2 linked regions of the Homo sapiens genome follow. The protein of the gene in region 2 interacts with the protein of the main gene of each other region in a biochemical or structural test. Each region holds a gene or a part of one and is shown on either strand. Other genes may lie near its edges. The genes, in order: TMEM41B and VMP1.

Region 1 (3,917 bases), on a different chromosome or scaffold from region 2:
GTAGCTGAGGCTGCAGCAAGCTATGATCATGCCACTGCACTCCAGCATAGGTGACACAGCGAGGCCTTGTCTCAAGTCACTAAAAACAGGCCTTACTTCATCATGAAGTGAAGGCACGCCTTCACATCTCTTCCCTGTCTTCCTATAGATTTGTGATCTATAGATGTCATGGGACAGCATCATAAGAATAATTGTAGGCCAGGCGTGGTGGCTCACGCCTGTAATCCCAGCACTTTGGGAGGCCGAGGCGGGCGGATCAACAGGTCAGGAGATCGAGACCATCCTGGCTAACAAGGTGAAACCCCATCTCTACTAAAAATACAAAAATTAGCCCGGCGTGGTGGTGGGCGCCTGTAGTCCCAGCTACTCGGGAGGCTGAGGCAGGAGAATGGCGTGAACCCAGGAGGCGGAGCTTGCAGTGAGCCAAGATTGCGCCACTGCACTCCAGCCTGGGTGACAGACCGAGACTCCGTCTCAAAAAAAAAAAAAAAAAAAAGAATAATTGTGTTGAATGTTTTGTTGTAATGATAAAATAAGATTAAAAAGTAAGAGCACTTTGGAAGTTTCAAGGTTTTATTTTTTGAATAGCTTTAGGTAAAAATCATGAATACAACTGGCTGCTACCTCAAATGAGATGTCAATTTTTAGGGATGCCCTATCTGGAACACTTTTTCAGGAAACCCAGACCTTGGAATATTGTCACCCTCAGTAGTAGAGTCTTCAAAACAATCTTTCTTTTATTCAGAGCTGATTTATACATTAACAACGATTCATTTCTCAGTTTTTGAAATTATATGAAGTCACCTGGATCCAGTGTATATAAGCTGGAAAAATACCCAAAAACATAAGGCTGACAGAGCCAAATTAGACTGTTGGAGACATTTTAAATTATTTGAAAATACATTAACATTTTCTACTACATACTCTTAGAAGTTCTCCTAGCCATCACTGGTGGTGGAACACACCTATGTGAGCTACAGACAAACTTGTTAGGATCACTTTAAGTTTATGAGCTTTAAAATCATTTAAAGAACGATTCCAGGCCAACACGGAATCAAAGTATTTAGTTTCTACGTACAGTTTTTTCCTTAAAACAATATTTAAAGCCGTGAGATTCTGCAATTATAGAGGCAGTAGGAATAAAGAGAAAACAAAAACCAAAAATAAAGCCGTGAGAAATGTCAGGATGATGTAGTGGGGAAATAAACTTTAGAATGAGTGACCTTAGCTGTAACTAAGTAATTGCTAATATTTATTTAGCCCCCACTTCATATCCAAGCATTGCTCTAAATCTTTTACGTGAATTATTTCGTTTAACCCACGCACCACCTATTAAGTAGATATTATTATTATCCCCATTTCACAGTTCAGACACTGAGCTTTTTTTGAAAGTTACCAAGTCCAAGGTTCCAAGTAAACAGTAGGGCAGGGACTCAAGCCCAGGTGTACTGCCACCTGGAAGTATTAAGTCCTCGCTCCTAACTACTACTTCACTGATCTGGCTTTATGACTTTATAAGTCATATACCCACACTGGGCCTCAGTTTCTTCATCTGTAAAAACAACGCAGCGAATGCCACAGTACAGCTCCTTCCAGCTCTGCCTAGCGTCGTTATCATCAACCTTACAATCTACCTGAGCGTCAACAAGCCAGTGTCATCCCTTCTTTTAAATGAATTCTACTCAAACAGCATTTACAACGCACCTACTCGGCGTCCGGCCTTGTGCTGCGCGAGCGCCCAAGCCCAACTCCCCCACGGTCTCTGCTCCCGCCGCGGCGCCAGCAGGCCCCCCTCTTTCCCCGCGACTCTCCGAGAATAGCGGGGGTCCTTTTCCCCACCCGACACACAGAAGCCTCGGGCCACCCCCAGCTCTGCTCCCCGGGCCCACTCACCCTTCTGGTGGTCTCTGCTGCCAGGCGCCGCGAGACCCCGCGTCCCCGCTGCCCCGTCCCCCACGGGGGTCGTGTGGTGAGCGCCCAACTGCGATCGTTCGGCGACTCTGCCTTTCGCCATGGCTGCTGCAAGGTGAAGGGAGCGGTGCGGTGCCGCGCCCCCTAAACAACAAAACTCTGTTGCAGGCTCCTTACTACGCCGAAGCGCCACGGCTAGAGCCACTTCCGGCGCGACCTCCTCACCCGAGACGACCTCAGCCCAGCGAGTACTGCAACCTCCTGCAAACACCCGCAGCGCCCACCACAGGCTAAACCCCGCCCCGTGCCGCCCCCGAGCCTCGCGTGCTCGCGCCGGCCCAGTAACCGCGAGACAAGTCAGGGTCCTGGACCGCCCCCTTCAGTGCCCCGCCCCGGCCCGCCCGCGGGAAAGAGGTGGCCGCCGGGCGCTGGGGCGAGAGCATGCGCAGTCGCGGCACTCGAGTCACCCGGCTGCGACTCGCTGGCCCTGGCGTCTAAAGCGTAGCCTTAATTACCCGGAAGTGCGGTCCCAGGGACTTCAAACCTTTTGTCCAGGCCGCCGGAGGTGCCTGTGATTAGTCGGCATTTCGCGGCTGAGGCTGATTCAGCCCATTACATCAATTCCGCAGCTGCTGTCTTCAATTTGGAGGCGCCAGAGAGTGCTTGATCTAAAAGATGGTGGGAAATACAAAGGTTGAGCAAAACCTACCTGAATTTCAGGAAACTAAGGCTCAGAGAGGGCTACGTACAACCTGTGAAGATCACAGGATGGCAAAAATGGGCTTAGAATCCAGGTTGTCCTGTTCCCAAAGCTAACGGTTTTGCATTAGCTGCTGCCCCTTACTACTAAACCCAAGTCAGCTCTACATTTAGCTTATCCCTAAGCTAAGCGGAAACATGCCTTTTCCACAGGTAACTTTTTCTGCTTCTACCCCTCAGAGCACATTCAGCTTACTCACCGTGGTTACCTCTTGAAAGCAACTTAGAGGCCGGTCGCGGTGGCTCAAGCCTGTAATCCCAACACTTTGGGAGGCCAAGGCGGGCGGATCATTTGAGACCAGGAGTGTGAGGCCAGACTGGCCAAAATGGTGAGATGAGACCCCGTCTCTGCTAAAAATACAAAAATGAGCTGGACATGATGGCTTGTAATCCCAGCTACTCGAGAGTGTGAGTCAGGAGAATCGCTTGAACCCCGGAGGCTGAGGTTGCGGTGAGAAATTGCACCGCTGCACTCCAGCATAGACCACAAAGCAAGACTCCGTCCCAAAAAAAAAAAAAAAAAATCCTGATTGTTTCTATTCAGTAATTACATTTGTAGGAAATTATTCCATGAAAATAAACATAAATAATTCCTCTGTATTAGTATAACAGTGAAAAACTAAAAGCAATATAAAAATCCAACACTAAATAAAAATGGTTAAGTAAATTATGGGAAACCCATTCAATTGAACTGTTTTATGTACACATCCTTTGCCTACTTCTGGCTCCCATTTTATTTCCTTCATAGTCATTAAAAGCAATTAATTCTGTGAACTATTTGTTTACTTGTTTATTGTCTGCCTCCACCTTTAGAATATAAGCTTTAAGGCAGGGGCTTTGTCTTTTTGTTTTTTGTTTTTTTAAGTGATGGGAATCTCACTATATTGTCCAGGCTGGATCTGAACTTCTGGACTCAAGGGATCCTCAAGCATCAGCCCTCTGAGTAGCTGGGACTACAGGCTCCATGCTATGGCTCCCAGCTGGGCTTTGTCTTTTTGATCACCATTGTATCCCCGGTAGCTGACAGAGTGCCAATACCTAAGTGGCCATTCAATGAATTTGTTGAATAATTTTTTTTTTTGAGATGGTGCCCAGCCGAATAAATTTTCAATCTTAGGAAATTATATTTATGGGCCAGGTGCCATGGCTTACACCTGTAATTTCAGCACTTTGGGAGACCAAGGTGGGCGGATCACCTTGAGGTCGGGAGTTCAAGTCAAAAAAAAAAAAAAGAAAACATTTTATAT
Region 2 (3,917 bases):
CACATACGCACATAAGCCTTATTTACAAACTTTTTTTCCCTCTTTAGCTAGTTTAGTCTTATAAATTGTAGCATAACAAAAACTGTGCTTGGCTAGATTTGAAGTGTAATAGATTAAGGAAAGAAAATCAGTTATATTCTTCAGAATAGTTTGTCTGAGTTCATGCTTCATGACTGTCATGTGTTGAGTTATCTTTCTGGCAAGTGGAAATGACGGAGGAGCCTTAACACGTGTCTACTGTGAATGTTGTTGCTAAAGAGTAGGAGAGAACTGGCCAGGCGCCGTGGCTCACGCCTGTAATCCCAGCACTTTGGGAGGCCGAGGCGGGAAGATCACCTGAGATCAGGAGTTTGAGACTAGCCTGTCTAACATGGTGAAACCCGGTGTCTACAAAAAATACAAAAAAATTAGCTGGGTGTGGTGGCAGACGCCTGTAATCCCAGCTACTCAGGAGGCTGAGGCATGAGAATCGTTTGAACCCGGGAGGCGGAGGTTGCAGTGAGCCGAGATCGCGCCACTGCACTCCAGCCTGGACAACAGAGCGAGACTCCATCTCAAAAAAAAAAGAGAAGAAAATAAAAGAAAAGCAGTAGGAGAGAACTGTATTATTTGCTCTTACAAAAAAAAAAACCTCCCCAAGCTGTTTGTAATTTTAATATTTTGTTATGTTAATTATCTATTATATATAGAGCCATTTCTCTAGTTATTTTATTCTGGGTAAATAGCCATTGTAGAAGAGTTAATTCTTTGCATTGTTGGGTACTCTTTTTTTTTGGTTCCATTGATTTAACAAACTTTTTAGTCTCTTTAGTCTTTCTCGGAGATGATAGTTCTAGGTGCTACTGTCATTCCTGTTTTTGCCCAAGTGCCCTTGCTGTGTCTCCCATTTTGGTGTGGAAATGAACTCTAGATTAGAGAATCCTAATAAACAGGACAAATTGAAGTGATAACTTTGTCGTGGTTTTGTAAATTGTTACTCTGCTTTCACAAAGCCTTGCAAATATTTTGAGGAATAGTAAATTGCTAAGAGCATATTGCCTCAAGAAATTCCTTATTTTATATGGGAAAGCAGCTTTGGATGGAGTTTGCTGAACTGAAGTTAGGTATTATGTAGGCCCTTATATAAAGCTTATTTTAAAATATGCTCCTTGATTTGCAGCATCAAGGAAATTTGAACAGGAGATAATTTTCTGTGTCAGATAAAAGGTGATACTTAAAGTTTAAGGCATATTTAAATTAAGCAAGGGCAATCTATTGAGTAATTATATCACAGCTAATATACCTATAATTGCTCAAGAGTTTGTTTGTATTCTTGAACTACTTAATCTTTTCAGTAGTTCATGGGAGTATTTTCTCTTGTCCTTGAGTTTTTTAATGATAACTTTGTTCTTTATAGATTACCTGGAAGGACTAGGCAGGTAGTGTTAAAAGCCAGGGCTATAAAGCTAGACTGCTTTTTTTCAAATTCTAGCTCTATTACTATGCAACTCTTGGATTAGTTACTTTTTACTTCTTGCTATCTCAGTTTCCTCCTGGACAATGAAGTCAATACCCTTCTTGTTAGGATTGAATGAATAGGTTTAAATAAAGCATTTAGAACAGTGTCTGTAGCATATAGTTAACCATGATTGTGATCATTATCATCATGTGGCCCCCTAAGCTATTGCCAAGAACTCTTTCCCAGCCCTCTTTTAAAAGCATAGCTTTATGTTGCTGCTTACTTAATTATTGTTTGCTCATTATTAATGAAGTTCCAGTAAATAAATATCTGAGTATACACTTCACTTTGTCTATATTTTACAACATATGTGAGATTCTTAACCAAATGAGGCATTCTTTTGGGCCATTCTGTTAACTTTTTGGTATTAACAGACTACATTATCTGTGTAAGCCATAACACAGAATTTGGCAATTGAAACTTTTGATGTTTCATGATGTCTTTTAGCACTTTCTTGGAATGGAAAGATCATTTTCCAGTGACATCTATTGCCTTATCTGTTCATTATCCAGTCAGTGAACAAACATTTTGTGTCCCAGGCCTTACACCAGGTTCTGGGGAAAACAATGGGAAATAAGAATTGTTAGGAAGGCAGCACATGAGGGTCTAAGAGAGAGTTAACAATGTGGATATATGCTTATTTGAGGCTGGAGCATAATAGACTTGGAATACATTGACATGAGATGATATAGGAAATATATACAGGATCCAGGTCATGCAGAATTTTGCAGGCCAAGGGAATGAGTTTGAATTTGATTTTGAGTGCAGTAGGAAATCATTCTACAATTTTAAGTAGAGGAGTAATAGGATTTATAAGAAGTTCATTGTTGTTCATGTGTGAAGGATGAATTGAAGCGGGCAAGAACAGAAATGGAGAGAGAAGTTGAGAGTCCACTGCATAGTCCAAGAAGAAGATGAAGATGGTCTGGACTAGAAGGGTAGCAAAGAAGATGGACAGTTGTGTGTGGATACCAAATATATTTGGTATAGGACTTGGTCCTGGGTTAGATGAGTGGTAAGAAAAAGGGAAGTGTCAGGGATGACTAAGCTTCTGGATTTAGTGACTGGGTGGGTGGTTGTGCCAGGTACTGGGAGAAGGGAGGTTTGGAGAAGACCAGGTTTGTTTGTTACAAGAAGGTGGGTAGGTGTAGGGAGAAAAGGACATGTTAATTTTGAGACACTTAAAGAATCATCTATGGACACAGGAGGGGGGACATCACACACCGGGGCCTGTTGTGGGTTGGGGGAAGGAGGGAGGGATAGCATTAGGAGATATACCTAATGTAAATGACGAGTTAATAGGTGCAGCACACCAACATGGCACATGTATACATATGTAACAAACCTGCACATTGTGCACATGTACCCTAGAACTTAAAGTATAATAATAATAATAATAATAAATCATCCAAGTCACGCACTTACATATATAAATCTAGAGGTCAAAACCAGAAATACAAATACGGGATAGTATTTTCAACCATGGACCAGATGAGTCACCTGGGGAGATAGGGAGAGGAGAGGGCCAAGGGCAGGTAAAAGAAAGATCTGGGCTGGATGCAGTGGCTCACTCCTGTAATCCCAGAACTTTGGGAGGCTGAGGTGGGTGGATCGCTTGAGTCCAGGAGTTCGAGACCAGCCTGGACAACATGGCAAAACCCCATCTCTCTTTTTTTTTTTTTTTTTTTGTTAAAAAAAAGAGAGACTTTTTTTTTTAACAAAACGGAGACTAAGAAGGTATCTTAGGGCTGGGCACAATGGTTCACACCTGTAATCCCAACACTGAGAGGCCAAGGTGCGCAGATCACTTGAGGTCAAGAGTTCAAGATCAGCCTGGCCAACATGGTGAGACCCCATCTCTACTAAAAATACAAAAATTAGCTGGGCGTGGTGGTGGGCACCTGTAATCCCCACTGCTAGGGAGGCTGAGGCATTAGAATCGCTTGAACCCGGGAGGCAGAGGTTGCAGTGAGCCAAGATCGTGCCACTGCACTCCAACCTGCGCAACTGAGCGAGACTCCGTCTTAAAAGGAAAAAAAAAAAAAAAAAAAAAGAAGGTTTCTTAGTCCGTTTTCTGTTGCTTATACCAGAATACCCGAAACTGGGTAATTTATAAAGAAAAGGAATTTAATTTTTATAGCCGTGGAAGCTGAAAAGTTCAAGATCGAGTGGCCACATTGGGTAAGGGCCTTCTTGCTGGAGGGACTCTGCAGAGTGCCGAGAGTATCACATGGAGGGGGAGCTGAGTGTGCAAGCTCAGTTCTCTTTTTCTCTGCTTATAAAGCAACCAGTCCTACCCCCATGATAACCCATTAATCCATTAACCCATTAATTTATGAATGGATTAATTCATTCATAAGGGCAGAGCCTCCGTGACCCAATCACCTCTTAAAGGCCTTGTCTCACTCTACTGCCACAT

Evidence for each region.
Region 1: the proteins of VMP1 (region 2) and TMEM41B form a complex in vitro, tested with the Homo sapiens proteins (one study listed by BioGRID).

What each region holds. Positions count from the first base shown.
Region 1 is NC_000011.10:9,312,428-9,316,344, forward strand, and holds the start of TMEM41B (transmembrane protein 41B), read right to left. Parts: upstream 2,167-3,917; 5' UTR 2,015-2,166; coding exon 1,894-2,014; intron 1-1,893. UniProt on the Homo sapiens protein: Phospholipid scramblase involved in lipid homeostasis and membrane dynamics processes. Has phospholipid scramblase activity toward cholesterol and phosphatidylserine, as well as phosphatidylethanolamine and phosphatidylcholine.
Region 2 is NC_000017.11:59,710,517-59,714,433, forward strand, and holds part of VMP1 (vacuole membrane protein 1), read left to right. Parts: intron 1-3,917. UniProt on the Homo sapiens protein: Phospholipid scramblase involved in lipid homeostasis and membrane dynamics processes. Has phospholipid scramblase activity toward cholesterol and phosphatidylserine, as well as phosphatidylethanolamine and phosphatidylcholine.